7 linked regions of the Homo sapiens genome follow. The protein of the gene in region 1 interacts with the protein of each later gene in a pairwise test. Each region holds a gene or a part of one and is shown in the gene's direction. Other genes may lie near its edges.

The links.
Region 2: the proteins of PFDN1 (region 1) and EDRF1 interact in a two-hybrid assay, tested with the Homo sapiens proteins (one large-scale study listed by BioGRID and IntAct).
Region 3: the proteins of PFDN1 (region 1) and PTN interact in a two-hybrid assay, tested with the Homo sapiens proteins (one large-scale study listed by BioGRID and IntAct).
Region 4: the proteins of PFDN1 (region 1) and CEP126 interact in a two-hybrid assay, tested with the Homo sapiens proteins (one large-scale study listed by BioGRID and IntAct).
Region 5: the proteins of PFDN1 (region 1) and GIT1 interact in binary tests that used the Homo sapiens proteins (3 or more experiments, as listed by UniProt).
Region 6: the proteins of PFDN1 (region 1) and CCDC85A interact in a two-hybrid assay, tested with the Homo sapiens proteins (one large-scale study listed by BioGRID and IntAct).
Region 7: the proteins of PFDN1 (region 1) and SYNDIG1 interact in a two-hybrid assay, tested with the Homo sapiens proteins (one large-scale study listed by IntAct).

What each region holds. Positions count from the first base shown.
Region 1 is NC_000005.10:140,293,102-140,296,601, reverse strand, and holds part of PFDN1 (prefoldin subunit 1), read left to right. Parts: intron 1-3,500. UniProt on the Homo sapiens protein: Binds specifically to cytosolic chaperonin (c-CPN) and transfers target proteins to it. Binds to nascent polypeptide chain and promotes folding in an environment in which there are many competing pathways for nonnative proteins.
Region 2 is NC_000010.11:125,733,209-125,736,708, forward strand, and holds part of EDRF1 (erythroid differentiation-related factor 1), read left to right. Parts: intron 1-195; coding exon 196-343; intron 344-426; coding exon 427-535; intron 536-863; coding exon 864-975; intron 976-2,435; coding exon 2,436-2,696; intron 2,697-3,500. UniProt on the Homo sapiens protein: Transcription factor involved in erythroid differentiation. Involved in transcriptional activation of the globin gene.
Region 3 is NC_000007.14:137,333,734-137,337,233, reverse strand, and holds part of PTN (pleiotrophin isoform 1 precursor), read left to right. Parts: intron 1-3,500.
Region 4 is NC_000011.10:101,981,010-101,984,509, forward strand, and holds part of CEP126 (centrosomal protein of 126 kDa), read left to right. Parts: intron 1-879; coding exon 880-955; intron 956-3,500. UniProt on the Homo sapiens protein: Participates in cytokinesis. Necessary for microtubules and mitotic spindle organization. Involved in primary cilium formation.
Region 5 is NC_000017.11:29,579,649-29,583,148, reverse strand, and holds part of GIT1 (ARF GTPase-activating protein GIT1), read left to right. Parts: intron 1-111; coding exon 112-224; intron 225-345; coding exon 346-451; intron 452-808; exon of another isoform or gene 809-1,004; coding exon 1,005-1,222; exon of another isoform or gene 1,223-1,312; coding exon 1,313-1,407; exon of another isoform or gene 1,408-1,768; coding exon 1,769-1,811; exon of another isoform or gene 1,812-3,044; coding exon of another isoform or gene 3,045-3,358; intron 3,359-3,500. Other genes in the region: TP53I13 (tumor protein p53-inducible protein 13), read right to left, coding at 3,045-3,358. UniProt on the Homo sapiens protein: GTPase-activating protein for ADP ribosylation factor family members, including ARF1.
Region 6 is NC_000002.12:56,186,990-56,190,489, forward strand, and holds part of CCDC85A (coiled-coil domain-containing protein 85A), read left to right. Parts: intron 1-3,500. UniProt on the Homo sapiens protein: May play a role in cell-cell adhesion and epithelium development through its interaction with proteins of the beta-catenin family.
Region 7 is NC_000020.11:24,588,129-24,591,628, forward strand, and holds part of SYNDIG1 (synapse differentiation-inducing gene protein 1), read left to right. Parts: intron 1-3,500. UniProt on the Homo sapiens protein: May regulate AMPA receptor content at nascent synapses, and have a role in postsynaptic development and maturation.

The sequences.
Region 1 (3,500 bases):
TGGCTGGCAATATTCCTCTTTTCCTTGTGAAATTCTTATCCTTCAAGACATAGCTCTACTCTTACTTTGCCTCTGAAGATTTTTTCAGCCCCTGGGGCAGACTCATTCACTCTTTCCTTGGCGATAGTAGGGCTTTTGTTCCTACAGCTAGTAAAGCACATTGAGTGTGTAGGTGTGTTTAAATGGGTCGGTCTTCCCAGCCAGATTGTCAGCTCTGGGAGACCATGTATATATATTATCTTTGTTTCCTCATTCTCAGTATAATGTCTGGCACAAAATAGCTATTAAATGTGTATTGATTTGAATTGAATCTGATTCTTTTTTCTGGCCTAAAATAACTTTTTTCTTTTGGTTTCTTAGAAAAAAAAGTATTTTAGAAAGTGTTAGAGACTTAAGAATGAGTTTATTATCCTATTTTAATATATGATCCATGTAAGATGAAATTATAAAAGTAACATATATTTTGACTAAGGTCAAAAAAATTATATCTGACCAAAATCACGTCCTCTGATCTGACAGGATTAATTCTTCATTAAATATATTGAGAAGGTTGTCTAATTCTAAATACCAGCCAGTTGAAGAGACACTCAGAACTAAAAATATAGAAAACCCAAACCTTAAAGATTATGCTTGAGGGTAGTATAATCCTTAGAGAATAAAGGCTATTTTATGCATAATAATATCAATGTATTTTTATCCATTTTACCTTCCTCATCTTCACACAGAATGTAAGTCAGATTTTTTTTTTTTAGGGTATGTATTTAGTTAAACAAATCATTGCAGACCCAGATATCTTTCATTTCATAAGTATGGACACATTTTGTAGTGTTAAATACCTCTTATACATGGCTATTTTTGGTTTAAAACAAGGAAAGTCAAGCTACAGGATAAGAGATGATGAATTGCTATATACTGTAAGCTCTGAGTATTTGTTGCTCAAAGCTATATTCCATCCAGTCTTTTGGCGTGTTGCCAGCACATTTTAGTTCTCTTACTTCATCTTCTTTAGAGAGGCTGTTATGTAGCCTGATACTACTACCACCAATTTCTAGTTTTGCTACTTAAGCTGTTTGTGAGCTGACCTCACCATACTGCTTTGAGAACTATGATGAAAGTTACAACTGGGGAATGATCTGTCTGAGTATTTGGAAGTGTTTGTCTTTGCATCTTTCTAGCATGCAAGGAGGGAATAGACAAATCTTAAATGTTATGTGAATATTTCTTGTATATATTTTTTCATGGATAAAAATGTTTATAATTGCTTGTGGGGGTTTTCTTCCTTTTCTACTTTGCATAGTAGAGGATAGGAGTATTTTTAAAATAAGAATTATATTTGAAAGTGCATATAAATGACATTTAACCATACTAGTGTTTGAAAGGACCATCATTAGAATAAATGTCAAACTTACTTTTATGAACAATAAGTATGATCCTAACCCTGATTTGATGTCAGATCTATTATTTGAACACCCTTTTTGCTTGAGCATTACATAAATAACATTTCTTTTTTCCAAAAGAGACAAATTAACTTTTTTTTTAATATGAGGAACTTGAGTAGATTAGCCTTTAAAAAGAACAATTAGTGCCTTTTTAAAACTTGAACCTAACTAAAAATAACTTTGTACCATATTTAAACTAATTTAGAGGTATGCTACCATTCTGTGGGTATTTTTTACATTTAAGGAACTAAGAATGAACAATGGTATAAATCTGCCAACTAGATAAGTGTCTAGCAATGCAAAAATTGCTGTTTGGGAGCGGTGTTACTATTTCTACTTGTTGAAGTAATTTAATGGTTGATCTCTAACGGTTGAAAGATCCAGAAGTGTAAAACTTAAGATAAATGTGGCATAAGTAGAAAGTGAAACAGTAGGTGTATTCCTGATAGGTAACAATTAAAAAAAATCTAAATAGTTAAGCAGTTTTTCAACTGTTTAGGTTGTAGAAATCTGAACTCTTTATGACAGCTTGGCTGAACTGCCCTTTGTTTAGAATGTTATGTTGGTTTTGTTGTGATTGTATTTCTTAGTTTGGATGTTGACCTATAATTTGAATCGTGGCATTTAGTAAAGGTGGGATGAAATATATGCAGCTTCCCTTAGTTATGTTAAATGTTAATAGAAAGGGGTATGCTCATACTGCTTCAAGTTTTGCAGCCCTTTTACAATTTCATGTAGCTATAGAGTTGGTCTTCCAGTCAATTTCAGGTAATTTTAAAACTGAAGAAATGGTCATACTATATTTTATTGCTAAGAGATTAGGAAATGAAATTTAAAAAATCTTAGTATAGTAAATATTATTGATATTGTTGATAAATACTGTTGATATTACAGTGAAAATAGTTTATATTGTTGCTCTCAGCAGAATCAAATTTGGATATTTTATTTAGTGCATACTACAGGGGAAAAAATAATGTGTGAGATTACTTTTGGTGTGAGAGTCACATTGCAAATGCCAATTTATAAATTCATTTTATACCCTCTTTAAAGGTATTAATCTGTATTTTAGAGAAAGTGAAGCAAAGATAGTTGTCAAAAGTAAGATGAGATTACTTTTTAGATTTTACTTGAAGAAAGAGAAGTTCTTGGTGTTCAGCTGCTTTTACTAATAGAACATGACCCACCCTTCTTGTGTTTTTATACAGAGCCATTTAAAGTCATGGCTTTCATTGCCCAGAGTTCTAAGGGAAAACAACAACATCTTTTCCTGTTGTGCAGGGAAAAATGACTTAAGTTTTGTTGACGCTGAATATGTATATAACCCCAGATGGGCACACATTCCTCTTGCACAGATTTAGTACTCTGGGGAGAGGAGATTTTTAAGTCATATTCTTAATTTCCTTAAGTTGTCAGTGATTTAAAAACTTGATGTTCATTATAACTCTGCTCTACTGCTGTCTAGAATGACATCACTGTTTTTGTGCCAGAGGGAGTTAACAAACATTTGCGTAAGAATTACATAGTCCTGTTTCTTCTGCAGACGAGTACTTTTTAATAATTATTTCCCTGCTTCCCCTCCCATATGCCCCAGTCTAAAGATTCTCACCAAAACACAGGAAATTAATTTTGAAAATGTTATGCTAATTAGATGTCTATTGTTAAAAAAGGGAAAAGTCTGTTATCTTGGAGAGTACAAACATACTAAAATAAACTTGCTATGGGGTTACTTATTTTAGGCTTTGGACCTGTTTTAAAAACATAAATGTAATTGATTCATTTAGCTACTTGGTGGACTTTGCTTGCTTCTGCATTTCCTGACATCAAAAGACCTGGCCTTTTTTTTTTTTTTTAACTGACAAAGGATTAAACAAAATCAGCCTTTGTTGTATGAAAAGTAGCAGTCATTTGCGGGATACTACAGTGTTTTCCAGTCAATGATAAGCAACTGAGCGAAAGGTGAAAAGTACCATTTGCTTGCTGTTCCTATGTAAAAATATTAAGGTAGCAGCAGTCTTGAACTGTTAACTTTGTCACTGAGGAATTGTGTGCTGTAACTGACTT
Region 2 (3,500 bases), on another chromosome or scaffold:
CCTTGCTGATGGGGTGGATGAGATTCCTTTGGGAGGCTGGGGCAGAAAAAAGATTAAAAACCACTGGTTTAAACACTTTCATGCTACATAGGTCTCTGTTTGCAGGACTTCTGCATTTGGTTGCTTTTTAAAAAGAAAGGTGTTGTTTCCTTGGGTTTTCTCTTAAACTGCTTTCCATCTGTCTGTATTTTACAGAAATATGAAATGATAAAGACAGAAGAAATTCCCAATTTGGAAAATTCTAATTTTTCTACTAAAGTCATAAAAGACATTGCACAGAATATTTTATCATTTTTGAAATCTAATTGTACCAAAGAAGGACATACCTATTGGCTCTTTAAAGGTAAGCTATTAATACTTCTTGAGTGAACAATAATTGATTTGGGTAACTGCTGTGAAATGAGTCTTCTTTGTTTTTCTTTTCAGCAAGTGGCAGCGATATAGTGAAGCTCTATGACCTCACTACTCTTTGTGAAGAAACTGAAGACAAATACCAAAATCCATTCACAATGCCGGTAGCCATTCTCTTGTACAAGTGAGTGCTTTAAGAATTTAAGATGAAGAAGTAGCCTATTATATAAAGTTTTAAAGCATACAGTCACAGTTTCCAAACCAAGGCTTTTAAATGCTTTTAGGTTTTCATAGTAGGGGGAAAAATACACGTACACATTGTACCAAATATTACTCAGCTTTCTTATGCCACCATAGTATAAACGTTTTGGGGGTTGTGGGTAAAGTGTAAAGTTTAGTATTTTGTTGTTTCTTATAGCTCTTTGTTGGAAAGAAACAAGAGCACTCCTAGACTTGAGTCTTGCAGACAACGATGAAATGGGCAGTAAAGTTGATATAAACTCTTTTTTTAGGGTTGCTTGCAACATGATGATGAAGAAGAATCAAAATAAGAAACACTATGGAACTATTAGAACATTGCTTCTTAATTGTCTGAAATTACTGGACAAAAGTAGGCATCCTCAAGTAAGATTAACATTTATGTATTCTCTAAAACAATCCTAGCATTCTAATAGGAGATTGTTACCTAGACAGTAAAGCCTCCTGATTCATATTCCGTAACTGCCCTATTCAGTGTGGTAGCCATTAGCACATGTGGCTGTTGATCACTTAAAATGTGCTTTGTCTGAATTGACATGTGCTGTAAGTGTAAAATACACACTGAATTTTGAAGATTGGATGTCTGTACCTATTACATGTTGAAATGCAATATTACATATATTGGATTAAATATATTTAAGTTGATTTCACAGATTCTACTTTTTAAATGTAGCTACTAGAAAATTTAAAATTTCTGTATGTGACTCATGTTACATTTCTCTCAGACAGCACTGCTCAATGAATTTAGAATTCATGTAATTCTAACAGTAGTGCCCTTAGTTCTTTGTTTTGTCGCTATTAGACCTTGTTACCACTTTGTTAATATAAATAGGGTTCACATTCCACACTTCAGGATATTAAAGCATCTCTTAAATAAAGGCCAGTAAAATTTCTTTTAAAGAGAAGGGGAAAAAGCATCTCTTAAAATATTCCCTCAGTCATGCTCCCAACAGTTTTACACCATCCTTACCCTCGGTTGTCTGATTGACAACTTTATTTTTCACTGTTAAGGCTATTTGTTGTATCCTGTTCAAATCAGTAAAGGTATGTAAGATACGCAATTTTTCTTTGAAGAGCCAAAGTAATTTTAATTGTAGCCACATTTGATTTAGAGATAAAGATTATCCTAGAGACCAAACTCAGAAATGTTTTTGAAGAAAAATAGTAAAACATTTTGTTTCTGACTGAAATACCTAATTGCTGACTGAGGTGGCAGTGTTTAGTGGAACTTGAGTGGTTTATTTGGATGTTAGAAATGGTGTTAAAGACTATTGTCTGTGATTAAGAACTGATAAATAGTAGAATGGGTTAAATGGTCATATATAAATGCTAATTTTAAGAGATATCAGAATGGACTTTTCCCTTTTTAATGTAATGGTTTTTTTTTTCTAGAACCATAGATTATATGATAAATATTAGTTACCTATTATAGAGAAACTTGAATTAATTTATAGTTTGTAAAGAAAAATTCTGGTTTCTCACTTGGCATAGGGTGGTATTAAATTTTTGTTAATATTTTAGTTATGACACTCTGTACTCAAAAGCTTTTGTTTGTCTCCAGTGAAATTCAGTTGACACCTTTTAAGAGGGAGGGCTCAGGGTGGAGTAATTTCGGGAAATAGGAAATGCATCAGCCTATAAAGATTTTGCAGAGCATACCCAGAGTATCAGTAGCTTTGAACTGGGAACATTTCTGTGTGTGTTACAGTCTATATGGTGGAAACAGCCTGTGTGCAGACCTCCTCCTAAAATTCGTTAGTATGGTAGTAAAATTCATGTATTTTTTGATGACAGTAATTTACACATATTTCTCTCTTTTTCATAAGATTATTGCTTCCGCCAATTACATGCTTTCAGAACTTTTTCAATTGGATGAACCTAAAAAGGAAGAAAATTCAGAATCTCCTTTAAATGAGAATTCTGATGAAAGTTATAGTGAAGAGGAGGAAGAGATGCCCGACAGTGATGAAAATGGATCCTATAGCACCAGCTCTGATCCATCAGATGATAGCAAAGCAGTAGCTATAATCAAGTCTGTTGGAGAACTATCAGTACCAGAAAAATACAAATCTATTCATCAAATCAGAGTAAGCCTTTAGAATTTATATTAAATTTTTATCAAGGAAACATAATTGTTAATCGAATATAGTTAGCCTTTCAAAAGATACCATTACTTCAATAAACCTTTCATGGTCTAGCATCTAGTAATCATTAGTTTTCTGAATTCTTAAAGTTGGTTTTATAATTGTTCGAGGGTAACTGACCCACATTATGCAAGCCTATAGTGGACAGGTGTGTAAACCAGGTGTCTGTCTATTCTTATGTGAAGGATTTTCCTTTCCAGTGACCAGTGTGTAGTCATAGTCATGTCTCATTACTAGGGCACTTCTATCCGGTGTTGGGGTTGCTGGGAAATGACATATATAGATTGCTTGGTGAACATAGAGTAGAGAAGGGGGTGGCTCTTGGAACTGTATATGGTGAGCTCTGGTACATTATCCCTGTGCTATATAGGACAGTACTTTTTTCGTGACTCTTGTGGTCATGTCTGTTGTATTGGACATGTCTCTGCCCTGGAGAGGGCCAGACAGATTTCTCCCTGTGTGGATTGCACTGACTCTACCATCAGTGTATCTCCAGGCAGTATATACCTTTCAACATACCGTCTCCCTATGATTAGATCCAGGCCAGCCTTAAGAGTTCTGGCTGTTCCCTGAACTGAAATACAGTCGTATTTACAGATAATCTCTTAATTTAAGCACTGAGTGTAACTTTCAGATGGAAACTCTAAGCAAGTTTTTGAGGGGCTATGTCTGTCACCTTAAAACATTGACCATCTTTCTGACCTTCACTTGCTCCATTGGTTTGCCGTGGCCATGCTGGGTTTTTTT
Region 3 (3,500 bases), on another chromosome or scaffold:
CCAATGTATGTACAGTTAGAGGTCAAATAACCTACAGCAGCAGTTCCCTGTCTTCAATGTTTATCAGATTAACTAGCGTCATGTGTAGGTTCCAGCTGCCTGGAGCCCATCTTCAGCAGTTCTGATTTAAGAGGTGGAATCAAGGACCCTGGACATACGACAGGGCATGTGGATACGGATGAAACATTAGAAACAGTAGCCTTAATCGCTCAATATTTGAGCTCCAAGGTCCAAAATACTGAGGTATAAACCACTGCACTTCTTAGTAGCTCTGTGACCGTGAGCAAATATTGTGGTCTTTCTTACTTCAGTGTTTTCATCTCTAACATGGGAGCACATACCTACCTTCCAGGATTGACGTCTGAGTAGTAATTGAGAAAATCAATGTGAAGTACTGAACATAGAGTCTGATTGCTGGGAGTGTTTGAGCAGGATGGTGAAAATGATGATCATGGTGAAGCAGCACCAGATGCAAGTCCTCACTTCTTCCCCCTCCTGAATTGCTTTTCTTTCTCATGCCCACTTGGCATCTGCAACAAACATACAAGCAAAATCCTAGGTGGAATTCCATGCTTCTTGAAAGGCCTCGCCCCTCCACATGCTCATACCATTTTCTTCCTTCTCTCTAAATGCAGATTGAAAATCCTTTCTTCTGGAAGAAAACATACGGAGCATGTGATCATGCTCAAGGCCTGGGGGTTGGGCAGGCAAAGTCTCCGATGCAGACTCTTTGACCTTATCCCTTCCCATAAGGTATAGGAGAGCATTTTGCATACAGAAGACTCCCAATCCAAGAGACAGGCACTTTATTGCTGACCTTAGTGATGCTCATAACCACATTCTCTCTGACCCCTGCTGATAGAGGCTTCAGTCCAGGGAAGGAGTTAAGGTTTGGAGTCAGGAACCAGCATCTCACCACAGTCCGCCTGTTGTTTGGTATGGGCTGCTGGATGTGCCACTGAATCTTCTGAAATCTTAGGTTTTTTAGCTCTAAGTGGGAAATGATGATGATGTTACTTGTTTTGCCAACCTCATAGGTTGGTGGTAAATGTCAATGGTCACGACGCAACATCTGTAAGCTCTAAACTGTTATACTGAACATGAACTGAACTTAATAAAGTCAGTGGGGCAAGTTCTGCCTTTCTGGTTTCCCAATCCTGCTATTGTCATTGTCATTTTCTCAGGACACACAGAGATTGCCTAAGTTGCTTGAAGGTAAGTTTGACTCACAAAGTGAGGAGGAGGTAAGATGTGCGACAGGAATGAAGAAAAAGAAATGAGTCATACTAAAAAAAAAAAAAAAAAGCGAGAAGACATCTTAAATGAGGCTGAACTGAAACAGGCATGCTTTCTTTTACCTCAGATTATGTTATATTTCCTTCTGAAGTGTCTTAAAAGCTACATGTCACATTTTTTAATTGGTTATTCTCACTAAATATAAGCCTTAGTAATTGGCTAACAGCAGTTCATTTACATGATAGCTGGATAACTGTGCTTCTCAAACTTTCATGTTCATACCAGTCACCCAGGGTCTTTGCCAAAATTCAGTAGGTCTCCAATGAAATCTCAGAGTCTGCTTTTCTGCCAAGCTCCCAGGTGACTGCAGTACTGCTAGCTTGGCGACCTCTCTTTGAGTAGCAAGCCACAACAGTTTAATTCAACAAACTTGAGGGAACAGGAGACAAATCAGAATGCTCCAGTCATGATGTCCATAGCTTAATAAAAATGATGAGGATCATTGTCAATATGTTATATGCAAAAGCTTCTAAAACTTACATCTTTGTGACCAAATAATATTTACAATGTATGATTATTTATGAAAGAAAATTGCAGACACCACCTGATTTGCTATTGACTTCACTGAAGTTCCCTTAAGTGTAAAAAGCCCCTGGCCAGATGTTGCACTTGGGCCTCCTTACCAGTGCTTCTGCTGGGGTCTTTCTCGGAGAGGGTGTAAGTGATCCAAATGTTGCCTTCTTCATTTGCTTTAAAAGCTAATGAAAAGTGTTTAGAAAACTTCATTCTTTTTTTTTTATTATTATTATACTTTAAGTTTTAGGGTACATGTGCACAATGTGCAGGTTAGTTGCATATGTATACATGTGCCATGCTGGTGTGCTGCACCCATCAACTCGTCATTTAGCATTAGGTATATCTCCTAATGCCATCCCTCCCCCCTCCCCCCACCCCACAACAGTCCCCAGAGTGTGATGTTCCCCTTCCTGTGTCCATGTGTTCCCATTGTTCAATTCTCACCTATGAGTGAGAACATGTAGTGTTTGGTTTTTTGTCCTTGCGATAGTTTACTGAGAATGATGATTTCCAATTTCATCCATGTCCCTACAAAGGACATGAACTCATCATTTTTTATGGCTGCATAGTATTCCATGGTATATATTTGCCACATTTTCTTAATCCAGTCTATCATTGTTGGACATTTGGATTGGTTCCAAGTCTTTGCTATTGTGAATAGTGCCGCGATAAACATACATGTGCATGTGTCTTTATAGCAGCATGATTTATAGTCCTTTGGGTATATACCCAGTAATGGGATGGCTGGGTCAAATGGTATTTCTAGTTCTAGATCCCTGAGGAATCGCCACACTGACTTCCACAATGGTTGAACTAGTTTACAGTCCCATCAACAGTGTAAAAGTGTTCCTATTTCTCCACATCCTCTCCAGCACCTGTTGTTTCCTGACTTTTTAATGATTGCCATTCTAACTGGTGTGAGATGGTATCTCATTGTGGTTTTGATTTGCATTTCTCTGATGGCCAGTGATGGTGAGCATTTTTTCATGTGTTTTTTGGCTGCATAAATGTCTTCTTTTGAGAAGTGTCTGTTCATGTCCTTCGCCCACTTTTTGATGGGGTTGTTTGTTATTTTCTTGTAAATTTGTTTGAGTTCATTGTAGATTCTGGATATTAGCCCTTTGTCAGATGAGTAGGTTGTGAAAATTTTCTCCCATTTTGTGGGTTGCCTGTTCACTCTGATGGTAGTTTCTTTTGCTGTGCAGAAGCTCTTTAGTTTAATTAGATCCCATTTGTCAATTTTGTCTTTTGTTGCCATTGCTTTTGGTGTTTTAGACATGAAGTCCTTGCCCATGCCTATGTCCTGAATGGTATTGCCTAAGTTTTCTTCTAGGGTTTTTATGGTTTTAGGTCTAGCGTTTAAGTCTTTAATCCGTCTTGAATTAATTTTTGTATGAGGTGTAAGGAAGGGATCCAGTTTCAGCTTTCTACATATGGCTAGCCAGTTTTCCCAGCACCATTTATTAAATAGGGAATCCTTTCCCCATTGCTTGTTTTTCTCAGGTTTGTCAAAGATCAGATAGTTATAGATATGTGGTGTTATTTCTGAGGGCTCTGTTCTGTTCCGTTGATCTATATCTCTGTTTTGGTACCAGTACCATGCTGTTTTGGTTACTGTAGGCTTGTAGTATAGTTTGAAGTCAGGTAGCGTGATGCCTCCAGCTTTGTTCTTTTGGCTTAGAATTGAC
Region 4 (3,500 bases), on another chromosome or scaffold:
AATAAAGAAGGAGGTAGACCATATTCAGGGAAGGGAAGTTGGTATCTCTCAGAAAGTGTTAGATGTGTACACTTTTTGCCAGTGTTCTGAGACTTCCGTTTTCAAGGTTCTGTGCAGCATTGGGGCAGCTATTTGTGTTTTAAGTTTTGTCACGTAAGATAATTACCTATCCTTGGCATTAGCTGTAGTCAGATGCTTTTAGCTAATAGTTATGATTCACCCTTACAATGACAAACCAACTAGGTTAGAAACTTTAAGGTAATTTTTTACCTTTTCTTTAATTAGCACTTTTTTTTATTTTTGAGACAGAGTCTCGCTCTGTCACCCAGGCTGGAGTGCAGTGGCACAGTCTCAGCTCACTGCAACCTCCATCTCCTGGGTTCAAGTGATTCTTCTGCCTCAGTCTCCCAAGTAGCTGGAACCACAGGCACGTGCCACAACTCCTGGCTAATTTTTTATATTTTTAGTAGAGACAGGGCTTCACCGTGTTAGCCAGGATGGTCTCGATCTCCTGACCTTGTCATCTGCCCACCTCGGCCTCCCAAAGTGTTGGGATTACAAGCATGAGCCACCGTGTCAGCCTAATTAGCACTTTTGATTACCATCCAACTCACTTTACCTCTTCCAAATATCCAGGACAATATCATAATCTGAAAATTTTTTTGTGGACATAAAACATTTTTCATAATATTCCATTACCATAGAAATTCTTTATTATAATAATTCTTGTATTCAGCTCTAAAAAATGTAATATACAAGTTACATGAACAATTGTAGCTAAAAATATATACAGCAATTAAAAGTTTTTTAAAAGTTCATGTACATATTATGAATTTTAAATATGGAAATATGTTTTAATTCAATATTCTATTTTTGTAGAATTTTGGACAAAGTGTCCTGCTAAGTTCAAGTGAGCCAAAACAAACTACAAGGGGTACTTCTTATATTGAAGAAGGTATGTTTTAGTTTAAACATTTTTCTCTGATCTTTGTTCCCAGTGATTTTTTTTCTTGTATGCCTATTCTCAGATGCTAACGTATTATGTAATTGTTAAAGCACCATTTAAAACCTGAACTCTCCTCACCCCTGCACATCCAGGTCATTGTCAGTGTTCCTTTATTCTAAATAATAATGTATTGAACATCTTTCTACATCAAGTTATTTTCTGATTTTTACTTATTTCTGTAGGTTAGATTTCCAGAATTAAAATTACAGTAACTGACATGTAAATGCCACCCAGTAAATATTTATTGAATTAAACTCCATGTATTAAATGAATACTGGATCAAAAGAAATAAGCATTGATATGGCTGTTCATATATATTGCTAAAGTATTTTCCGGAAAAGTATTATTCAAAATTGTTCTAGTAGTGTGTGTCCAGTGGTGTATGTCAACTTGAGGTAGAATCTTTTCATATTTGCTATAGACAGAAAAATAGTATTATATTAGTTTTGATTTCTATACCTTTCATTAATATTATGCTTAATTGCTTTTCTGTGTATTTTTTGGTGAACTGTCTCTTTGTACTCTTTTTTCTTAGATATTAGAGTTCGAAATTTTCTTACTGATGTCTGCAAATTATTTAGCTATGAAGGATTCTAATTCTTATATTAGTTGAAGATGTTTCATTACTACTTGCATGTTATTCTACTTATATTGTATTTTCACATATATTTTAATTTGTATCTGTTCATTCAGTAAATGATTATTGAGAGCTAATCTTCTGCTTACAAGTAGGTATTGGATATACATGTAGAATATCCCTAATCCAAATATTTCAAAATCAAAAATGCTCCAAAATCCAAAATTTTTTGACCCCTGACATGATACCACAAATGGAAAATTTTACACCTGACTTCATATGATGGGTCACAGCTAAAACACAAGCTCATACCATACAGTTTATTTAGCATCCCCAAGGGGAAAAAAGATCCTCTCAGCCCTCTTCAGCTGCACTATATCTTTCCCATGCACACCCAGATTCCCCCATGTAAGCATGCTCACAAGGAGTAATAAAATGATACATGTACCAATGGCAGATTCCCCACGAGACCCCACATGGGGCCAAGACCTACATGCATTACTCACTGTATTTTTTTGCTTTTTCTCTGCTTTGTGATGTAAAGATATTGTTGAAAATATCAAAAAGACCTGAAGATACCCCTGTGGGTAGCAGTGATAAGAAAAAGAGGAAACATTTCTGTTTATCAATAGCCCAGAAAGTCAAACTTGGAGAAACTACACCAGCAACCTAAGTGTAAAATGTCTTATAGAAAAGGATGGTGTTGGAATGACCACAATATATGACCTGAAGAAACAGAAGGATAAACTGTTGAAGTTCTGCTTTGGAAGAGATGAACAGAAGTTAATGCAAAACATTAAACACTGCATAGGATTTCAACCATGAAGTCAAAGAGTGGATCCATCAGCGTCGCATGAGCACATGCCACTTAATGGTATGCTGATCATGAAACAAGCAAAGATCTATCATGATGAACTGAAAATTGAAGAGAACCATGAATATTCAACAGGCTGGTTATAGAAATTTAAGACACAGCATTATTTTTAAAGATTTGTGGTGATCAAGCGTCTGCTGATTACAAAGCAGCAGAGAAATTCATTGAAGAGTTTGCCAAGGTCATCGCTGATGAATATCTGACACCAGAAGAAGTATATGTTACTGATGAACATCACTGGTTTGGTGTTGTTACTCAAAAAAACATTGACTATAGCTGATGAGACAGCCCCTACAAGAATTAAGAATAACAGAATAACTGCTAGGATGTGCTAATGACTCAGTCACGCCCAAGTGTAAATTTGCTATGATAGGCAAAAGCTTGTGTCCTCACTGATTTCAAGGAGTGAATTTCTTACCAGTCCATTAATGTGCTAACAAAAGGACATGGATCACCAGGGACATCTTTTCTGATTGGTTTCACAAACACTTTATATCAGGGAAGCTGGATTGAATGATGACTGCAAGATTTTGTTATTCTTTGACAACTGTTCTTTTCATCCTCCAGCTGAAATTCTCATCAAAAATAATCTTTATGCCACGTGCTTTCCCCCAAATATTACTTCATTAATTCAGCTGTGTGACCAGACTATCGTTAGGTAGATGAAGAGTAAATACATATAAACACTTTCTTGAACAGCATGCCAGCAACAGTGAACAGAGATGTGGATGTAGAAGGTTTTCAAAACGAGTTTAGCATGAAAGATGCCATACATGCTGTTGCAAACACTTGGAACACAGGGACTAAAGACACAATTGTGCATTCCTGGCACAACCTCTGGCCTGCAACTATGTTCAGTGATGATGAACAAGGTAGTGACTGAAGGATTCTGTATGTCAAGTGAGAAAAAATTATGTCTGACCTCATTACGTAAGCAAAAAAATATACCTTCAGAGTCTATCAGTAAGCTGGAAGAAGTGGATATCAAAGAGGTTATTAACATCGATAATAAGACTCCAGGTGTTTTCATTGACCAATGATGA
Region 5 (3,500 bases), on another chromosome or scaffold:
CCCCTTGGTACCGTTTCCAGCTACGCCAGCCACAGCAGGCGCTCAGGAAGTGTTTCCCCCATTGCTTAGCACGCAGTGGGCACTCTCTCACTTGGCATCTCTTCCCTGCAGATGGTGCACACGCTTGCCAGCAACGGGGCCAACTCCATCTGGGAGCACTCCCTGCTGGACCCCGCACAAGTGCAGAGCGGCCGGCGTAAAGCCAACCCCCAAGACAAAGTCCAGTGAGTGGGGCTGGAGGGGTGGTGGGCAGAGACTGCGCAGTCCGGGACAGGGCCCTGGGAGGTGGCAAGGTGACCACCCTCTCCCACCATGCTCCCCATTCCTCCTGTGTGCCCCATGCAGCCCCATCAAGTCAGAGTTCATCAGGGCCAAGTACCAGATGCTGGCATTTGTGCACAAGCTTCCCTGCCGGGACGATGATGGAGTCACCGCCAAAGACCTCAGCAAGGTTTGAGGGGCCCTACAACAGATGGGTGGCCCCCTCCTCTTCTTCCCATCCACGACTCTCTGAAGGCCTCTCCTTTGTCCCCACTGAGCCCTGGGCCCCAAAGGCAGCCAGGTCAGGGTAACAGTAGACAGGGTGGAGAGAGCAGATTGTTGGGTCAGGCCGTGTGTGGCTGAGGCTCCCCAGCAACCAAGTAGACACACAAGGCTAGAAGCCCACAGCTGCCACTCAGAAGCTGGGAAAACCTGGGGGTAGTTGCTTAGCCACTCATAGCCTCAGTTTACTCATCTGTAAAATGGGAAAGAAATAACAGCATCTACTTCATAAATAGTATCTAAGCAGGGCACACAGCACACGTGGTAGATGGTGACTGACGGCAGCGTTTATTAATTGGCATTAACCCCTAGCGGGAAGCCTCTGTCCTCCCGACATAGTCTGGTTTGGGCAGGCCTCCTTGGAGCTGCTAGGTGTCCCAGGGGCAGCCAGGGTGCAGCTTGTGGGTGGGGAGGTGCGCCTCACGCACATGCGTATTCACTGCACACTCTGCTCCTCTTAGCAACTACACTCGAGCGTGCGGACAGGCAACCTGGAGACATGTCTGCGCCTGCTCTCCCTGGGTGCCCAGGCCAACTTCTTCCACCCAGAGAAGGGCACCACACCTCTGCACGTGGCTGCCAAGGCAGGACAGACACTGCAGGCCGAGCTGCTTGTAGTGTATGGGGCTGACCCTGGCTCCCCTGATGTTAATGGCCGCACACCCATTGACTATGCCAGGTGAGGGTCGGCTGAAGGGTGCAGTGTGGGTGGGTGGGGGTGTGGGTGAGGGCTGCTGCTGCAGGTCTGAGCCATACCCCCTCCTCACAGGCAGGCGGGGCACCATGAGCTGGCGGAAAGGCTGGTTGAGTGCCAATATGAGCTCACTGACCGGCTGGCCTTCTACCTCTGTGGACGCAAGCCGGGTGAGCAGAGCTTGGGGGGCGCCTGGCTGTGACAGGCCTGGCTGGGGCTGGGCAGGTGGGACCTGGACGCACCCGGCAGCAGGTGCCATGGTGACAGAGCGGCTGGGGAGCAATGTTGCTAGGCAACTGGCTCCTGTGAAATTACTGCAGGCTCTGGGCCATAGCATCGCTGGGGCTAGGGAGTGGGGGTGGGCATCCTGCATCCTCCCACGAGCTCCCAGCATTCTTGGGGGTGGCCTGCCCTCCCCACTTTCCCCTGACACTTCTGGGTGCCAGCCCTGCTCATGGCAGTGAGGTGGGCTCCCAGCTGCTGAGGCCACCCAGCACTAGTGAGTGACTTGGCATTTTTATTTTTGTTCAGATCACAAGAATGGGCATTACATCATCCCACAGATGGCTGACAGGTGAGTGCCCACCTGATGCCCCTTTCCAGAGGCTGTTGGATGCCATGTGGGTGGCTGACCCCCAGAGCTCCCAGCCCAGGTTTCAGAGGCCTAGGACCCTGCTCCCTCCCCCCAGAGACTAGAGGCACAGCTTAGTCCTCAGTCCCTAATGCTGGGCCCCAAGGCAGGTAAAAAATGTCAGCTCCATATGTGGCCCGCATAGCCTGAGCCCCGTGACTGTCAAGTACATGGAGGGCTTGGGTGTGAGAAGCTACCTGTGGGCCGGGCGCGGTGGCTCACGCCTGTAATCCCAGCACTTTGGGAGGCCGAGGCGGGCGGATCACCTGAGGTCGGGAGTTCAAGACTAGCCTGGCCAACATGGAGAAACCCCGTCTCTACCAAAAATACAAAATTAGCCAGGCGTGGTGGCGCATGCCTGTATCTCAGCTACTCGGGAGGCTGAGACAGGAGAATCGCTTGAACACAGGAGGTAGAGGTTGCGGTGAGCCGAGAGCACGCCATTGCACTCCAGCCTGAGCAACAAGAGCAAAACTCCAAACTCCGTCTCAAAAAAAAAAAAAAGAAAAAGAAACAGAAGCTACCTCCGGCTGGGAGGGTGGGCCACTGGGTTCTGTCCCAGTGGCACCGACCCCACTGTCTTTAGAGAAGCCTCTGCTCTTCGCTGAAAAGATGGGTGGGCTTCAGGGATGTGACTAACTTTGTGACTGCTGGCTAGGCCTCTAGCGTGCTCAGAATTAGGCACGTGCGCTGAGGCTGGTTGAATGAGGTGTTTCTGCTTCCGTCTGAGAGGCAGTGTGGGACACCCCCTGCCACTCACCCAGCACATAAGATGGATGCTGGTGCCACCTGGTGGCCACCTCTGATGGCCATGTCCTCATGCCAGGCTGTGCCTGCTGGCCTGGATCTGGAGAGAGGAGGTGCTCTCCTCCCCAAGGGCCTGTGTGGGCAGATGGGCATAACCAGGCCTGGGCGACTCAGATCCTAAACCCAGACCTCTTCCAGACCCCAAGGCTCCTACTTCTATGGTCTGATTCTACCTGGGTTGTGTGTGCATGCGTGCATGTGTATGGTAAATACACCCAAATATGGGCTCCATTCAACAGCACATTAACTGAGCACCTTCCCGGAGCCAGCTACTGCTCTTGGCACTGGGAGCACAGAGGCAGCTGAGACACAATCCCTGCCCTTAAGGAGCTCACAATCTAGCTGGGGAGGCAGCCTAGCCAGGTGATTCTAGTCCTCATGGGGGAGTGCAGCAAGAGAGGCAGAGGCATGGAGGGTAGAAATGCTGCATGGGAATGGAGGCAGCCCCCGGGCTGGAGCACAGCATGGGAGGCAGGGAACCCTACAAGCAAGACTGGGATAGAGACGAGCTGGAGAATGAGCAGCCCCGAGAGCATCAGCAGGAGCAGTGACCATCCCGAGAGCGGAGAGTTCCAGGCACAGAAGTGTGAAGTCATCTCTGCTGCTTACTGGCTGTGTGACTTGCAGGCTGCTTGACCTCTCTGAGCCTTGGTTATCTCTCCTGGAAATGGAGATGACAGCATCTATTTTTCAGGGAGGAGAGGATTAGATAAGAATGTATGCAAAATGTTTAGCCTTTTTTTTTTTTTAAGAGTTGGGGTCTCGCTCTGTTGCCCAGGCTGGAGTGCGGTGGCTTGATCATAGCTTACCACAGCCTCAAACGAT
Region 6 (3,500 bases), on another chromosome or scaffold:
TGCTGCAAGGAGCGGACTCCCAGGCTTCTGGCCCACCCTGGGTGTGCTGTGGTTTTACTCTTTGGAGAGGCCAGCCTTCTCCCTTCTCTTTTTTATTTTGGCTCAGAGCTTCCTTGGACACCATAGTAATCCATAAATGTGGTTGATTGAATAAATGATGGGTACATATATTTATTTTGGCTTAACTGGAAGAAAAGAAGTATTTTTTTTTGTTAAGGGCGTGGGGGAGCGTCTGAGGGCTTGGCATTCTCAGTTGAGAACTATAAATGTAGGGGAATTAAGACCATAATACATTTTCTTTTTTATGCCTCTTTCTATGAGCTGACTTTGAAATTGCATCTAAATATTTGTAAGGCTACCAGGTGTTATTGTAGCTGTGGACACAGGAGATGGCAGCATCAGTTCTTTACTTTTCAGGGGCCTGTGGCCGGGTCCTAGCACTGATTGACTTGTTTGTGTTTAGATATTTGGGAGGCAGGGCAGTGCAGGGGCCCTGAGAAGTGGAAAGATAAAGAATTTGGATTCTGATAATTTGGGCAGCTTTGGCCAATTGTTAAACTCTCTGTCTCTCGGTTTTCTCATCTGCTCATGGGGATTTTAATTCCACATGAGGTTTTATGAGGATGAAATATACCATAGATGAAGAAACCCCAGTGAAGTTAGATAGTTTTCTCAAGGTCACACAGACATAAAGTGTTCAAAATCGGCCTGCTTTCCTTTTCTTTTGGCTAGTTGACATTCTTTGCTTAGAATGTGTGGTCCTGGAAGGGGTGGATGAGGGAGATTCTAGTTAGGGTTATGTTGTAAGGAACTGGATTCCTGAGAACCATGTCTTTGGACTGCTGAGCATATACCAACACTTCAGGCTGCTCTGACCCAGTATCCCAGTTGGGGGCTGATTCGGGATGAATCTCTGTAGATTTGTTTTCTTCATTGCATTAATTTCCCTCCTTGGTTCCTAACCCAACCACCGACCCGCCCACCACCCTGCTCTGCAGTGAAGCAAAATAACAAATTAAAACAATTATTTAACTGTAGATACAGTACTTGATAGTCTTCAGGCATAAGATTGAAATTTTGGTTGGTGTGCTACGAAGTGGACTTAACCTTTTAAAAGTCCACTTAGACACTTGGATAATTTCTGGTGGCCGGTGGCAATGTTAAAAGGACACCTAGTGTTTTGCAAAAGAAAGCCCAAGTCTTAGTGAGGCAGATTTGAAGAAGCTGGATCACAAGGTTATTATCAAGCTGGCTGCTTAGCTGTTCATCAGAAGGCAAAGGAAATAGCTCAGAACTGAATAGTAAATAATATTCTCAAGAAAACTAATAATAGAAAGAGGGAACTGTGATATAGAAATGGGAGTGGGCCAATACTCACTCCTATCTACTCCATCTGGAGTGCTGAGAAGTGTATGTTTCACTCCTTTTGGAAAAGGCATTAGCTCCGTGAAGCCGAGGGTAGCACCAGTCCTGTTTACTTTCCAGCTCTAGAGAAATCAGAAGTAGCTGTAGCATAGTCAAAGGGAAGTATTTTCCTATGAAAATTTGTTTAGATGAAAGAGAACATGACTTGAGCTTTCTATCAAATGCCAGGATTAAACTAAATGTTGAATAATTTTTGGAGCTTAGAAAGATTAATTTTCTTTGTTATTGTTTTCTCCAAATATCCACAGCTTCTGATTTCCTGTAAAGCATCAGTATCAAGGGATAGTTTATTTTCTTACTACTGTAGGCTCTGACATAGCTAGTGCTTGCTGAAAACAATAAGAAATTCTTCTCAGTAGCTATAGCTGTAGCCTGTTTTGGCCAGAGGCCTGGAGCTTTATATGGTTGATCAGTCCATAAACACATATTGAGTGTCCACTGTATGCAAGGCACCATGCCAGATATGTTGCATATTCAAAGAAAGACTTTTGGAATAGACCCTGCTCTCCAGAAGCTAAGATGTCCACATTAGAAAGGAGAAAAAATTGATGTCTAGTGATTGTTCTAGCTAGAGTGTGATACAGGCCTTAAACAGTGAGTGGGAAAGTTACTTCATTCATTCATTCATGGGTACTTTTCTGTGCCGGGGGAAACTTCTCAGAGGAATCTCTCCTCTTAGGTTCATATGGGGTAGAAGATGATATTTTCTAGTTGGAATGCACAGACGTAATCATAGCTCATAATTAGCTGGCAACTAAAGGTGGAAAGGCAAGGGACAGCCTTTCAGGCCTGGCTGAGGGTCTTATTCATTTTCCCTGGCAAAGGAAAGGTGATGGGGATTGATAAACAGGAGAGGCAAAACATGCACGGGGTATTTTTGGTGTTTTTTTTTTTTTTTGAGACAAGGTCTCACTCTGTTGCCCAGGCTGTAGTGTATCGTGATCTTGGCTCACTGCAGCCTCCTCCTCCCTGGTTCAAGCAATTCTCCTGCCTCAGGTTCCTGGGTACCTGGGATTACAGGCACGTGTCACCATGCTTGGCTAATTTTTGTATTTTTAGTAGAGACAGGTTTCACCACGTTGGCCAGACTGGTCTTGAACTCCTGACCTCAAGTGATCTGCCCACCTCGGCCTCCCAAAGTGTTGGGATTACAGATATGAGCCATTGAACCCAGGTGTTGTTGTTTTTTGTTTATTTTAAATTTCAACTTTTATTTTAGATTCGGAGAGTACACTGTGTGATGCTGAGGTTTTGGGTATGATTAATCCCATCTTCCAGGTACTGAGCATAGTATCCGATAGTTTTTTAACCCTTACCTCCCTTCCTACCCCACTAAGAGCCCCCAGTTTCTGTTGTTGCCATCTTTATGTCATGAATAGCAGGGAGTATTTTTGAAGGTCTGATTGAGGAGTGCTTGTGTTCTAGTGGGTGAGGGGAAGGAGTGGATGGTGCAAACAAAGGCAGGGAGGCTGCCTGGGAGGCTGTTGGCAAAGGTCAGGCCTGAAAACAGAAAGTGGCAACGAGAAGCAAAAAGGAGAGGTGGGAATTAGAAGCAAAGGAACAGAGTTGTTGGTGATGCCAAGAATTAGAACTGGAGTTAGAAACTAAGCTGCATAAGCTTCTTCCTAATACCCACAAATTCACTCCCATGACTTTAGGAAGTGGAGGATGTGGTTGACAGGTGTTTTATAATTTGTTTTTTAGTCTATGTTAAGGGCAGTGTTGAAATCAGCCTGAGTGTAAGTGAATTCAGCCCCCTTTCTGAGTACCTCTAGTTCTGGATCGGTTCGCAAGACCAAAGATTTTTCAGGCTTTTTGAAGCAGTGAAATCTTAGGTAGCAGCCCTGTAGCTGCCCCTGTTTCATCCTTACCAAACTACAGTGCCTCAAGGAACTGCTGGCTCCTTGACTGTATGCATAAATGGAGAATAGGTGGGAACTCTACTAGTCATCTTAAAAATTCCTTGGCTTCAGGTATTTGCGCAGGGAGTGCTGTGTTCTCCATACACAGAAGTACATAGATGAGGTCTCTGTTCTTGTGACTCTAGAGAAGATGTAGTCTAGAATGAATGGTCA
Region 7 (3,500 bases), on another chromosome or scaffold:
CAGTGATGTTAAAATGATTTCCAGGGTGTGCGGTTAGCTGAGGGTTAGAGATGAAGGCCAGTGAAAGTTCCCAGGAGGCACCTGCAGAGCAGCTGCTGCTGGTCGTGCCCTGCTGGAAACCTGAGTTCTCCAGGTGCTGGGGGTCCAGAGGCCAAGGAACACCTGGAAAGACACAGACACACCTTTCCCAGCAGATTTTGCTAATTCTAAAAATATGTTCATGAAGTAGCATAACAGTAGTAATCAAAGTGTTAGTGAGGTGGGTAACATTGGCTGACCACCTACTGTGCGCCAGGTTCAGCGCTGGAGCCATGCACCCTTGCTTCCAGGATGTGGTCCTGGACCCCCTAGGCACTTGCTAGAAATGCACACTGTCTGGTCCACCACACACCTGCTCAGTCAGAGTCTCTGGGGCAAAGCCCAGGAATCTGCATTTTGAGGAGGCCTCCAGCTCCTCATGGATGCTGCTGCCATCACCCGGGAGGGGCCGTGGTGACCTGTGCTGCAGTCTCGGCTGGGAATCTAATAAGAAGTGGGAAGCTGCGGGATGTCTTTTGGAAGAAATGACCCCTGGGCTTTGGTTGTGGTGTGAAAGGAAGAGGGAAGGGAGGGATGCCCTGGGTTCTGATGTTGCTCGGTTGTGAATATTGCTGTCTTACATGCATTATCTCATAGGAACTCCATGACATGGGTGCTGAAATCAGGGTTCAGTGAGATTGAGAGATGTGCCTAAAGCCAACATTGGTGAGCAGTAGGCTGGAGCTAGCAGGATGTGCAGGTTCGGAAGCACCTGCCTTCTCTGGGGGAGGCATCTGGCTTGTCCCTGAGCTGTGGGGTGGGGGTGGGTGGGCAGATGAGGGCAGCATGTTGTCTACAACTTCATTTTGCCCAACAATGTTCCATCCAGCCCCCATTGCAAGCACGCTTTGTAAACCAGTTCATACAGAGGAGGATGTGGGTGTGTGCGATTAGGGTGGTGTGGCTTCATCTAGGAACTGACATTTGTGAATGATACTGAGGATAGACATGAATCCCATAATTGGCTGAGTGGCTGCTGTCAGCTAGTTAATGCACACACTTTATCTTATTTAATCTTTGCAGTGAGTCCAGAAGGTGGAAAATTATTATCTCCATTTTACAGATTAACAAAACTGAAGTTTCAAGGGATTTAATAAGTAACAGAAATCACAGAGGTAGCAAGTATGGGCACATGAGGGAAATATTAATATTTCTAACCCTTAAAGCCATATTTTCTGCAATGTAGCTTTGACTTTTATCTGTTTGCAAATGAAAATAGAACCACAGTCCTTGCTTCTAAATTCACCATCCCCCCACCCTGCTTGGAAAGGCTTGCAGGGGAGGAAAGCCTGTCTGAGCATGGTGTGGCATTGGTCTTCATGGCACTTCACTCCATCCCATGTGATGGGGGCAGCCGGGGACCAAAGCCAGATCCCTGCCCCCAAGGTGGGCATTGGGCCTGGACCTGCGCCGGGCAGGCCCGAGGGTTCCTGTGTTGACTGTGCTGGCAGATGTCTTTGCATCCAAGCATTTATTATGTCTTGATCTAATTTCATTTCATAAAATGTTTCTTTCCTTTACTAACTGCAACATTATAACAATAATTAAATGAGAAAAGGGTATTAGGAAGCAGATTATGAATTTTATGAATAGTACCAGCAAAGGGAATTGGGCAAACTAGGGGAAAAAAGAGAATCTTTTTATGGTACTGAAAATCTAGAAGAGTGCAACCTAGCTAATAGCAAAGCCCCTTGGAATCCATTCATTTACCCACTGATTAGTGAACACCTCCCACGTGTTCAGTAAGTGCCAGGCATGCAGCAGTGAACAGAGCAAACCAAATCCCGCTTGTCAGAGCTAACGTGCTCGTCGCCTGCCTCTCTTCCTTGCAATGTCAGCTTTACTTTTCTCCGTTTTACTCACTGGCTATTAGCTGCGGATGGACATGGGGAGCGTGGAACTGGGAGAAACGTTTTTAACAGGGTGGCCGTGGCGGGGCTCGCGGAGAGGATGGTGTCTTCTGATAAAGCCGCCAGTTGAGCCAGGGGGAGCCCTTGGGGAGGAGCTTCCAGACAGAGAGGCCTGCAGTGCCGAGGCCCTGGGGGGAGCACGTGGGGCAGGTGGGGCCGGCGCGGCGGGGCTGGGGGCCGCGGGTGTGGAGTGGGGAATGGGGGTAGGGGTAACTAACAAGGCGGGGCCAACAGGGGCAGACCCCGAGACTCTTTAGGCTGTGACCGAGCGGGGCTTCCACTTTGGGATAAGAAGCCTCGGGGGTTTGAGCGGAGGAGAAGCCCCTGTGGCCACATGCTCCCGGGAGCCTTCAGAGAACAGGGCGGAGGGGGAGGCGCAGGGCGACGACGGCAGTGGTCAAACGCAGAACCGTGGAGTCCTGTGCTGCAGGAGTGGCTGGGAATTTCATAAGCAGTGGGGAGCTGCGGGGTGTCTTCTGGGTGAATGACCCCTGGGCTTAGGTTGCAGTGTGAAAGGAAGAGGGAAGGGAGGGATGCCCTGGACCAGGGGTTTCCTGCAGCCGGATAGGCAGCACCTGCAGCGGGGCCTCTCAACTCCAGGAGCTGTCGGCCTCTGCGTGGAGGCACTGAACCATGGGGGCTCCAGGGAGACGTCTGGGCCGAGGGTAGGAGTGTAAGGCCTGAGCTGGGGATCAAGCACCGGCGCGGTGATGAGGGGCCCGTGGGAGCATTGACCGCTGATGAGCAGCTTCAGGCATGCAGGGAGGGACAGCACCGAGGAGCGGACTCCAGAGCAAGAGGAAGGGAACCATCCAGCGATGCAGAGCTGCACTGCTGGGACTTGGATCAGCAGGCACAGCAGAGGGGCGCGGAGGGACTTGTGGGTGCTGGGGACATTCTCTTTCCTGACCTGGGTACTGGCTGTATGCTTGTGGAAACTCATTGAGCTTTATTTACACCTTCGTGTGTGTGTGTGTGTGTGTGTGTGTGTGCACTTTTCTGTAAGAATACTATACTTCAATTAAAACATTTAGAAAATGCACGTATTTGGGAGGCCTAGGGAGAAGAACTGCTTGAAGCCAGCCTGTGCAACAGACCCCATGTATACAAAAATTTTAAAAAAAAAAATTAGCTGAGCGTGGTGGCTCATGCCTGTGGTCACAGCTAGTCATGAGGCTGAGGCAGGAAGATCACTTGAGCCCAGGAGTTCAAGGCTGCTGTGATCTATGATCCCACCACTGCACCCAGGCCTGAGTGACAGAATGGGACCTTGTCTTTAAATATACATATGGAAGTGCAAAGAGAGTAGCTGAACATAGTACATCTAGTTATCTTTTTTTTTTTGAAGAGTTTTGCTGTAAATGGAGAGTGAGAAATGGGATGCTATTTAATGAGGTCATGTCAAGAGTGTTCTTTTGTTTTTTGTTTTTGCTTTTAAGTGGGAGAAATGATAGCATACTTGTTCATAATGAAAATGACCCAAAAGAGAGAAAAATAGATGTTGTGAAATAC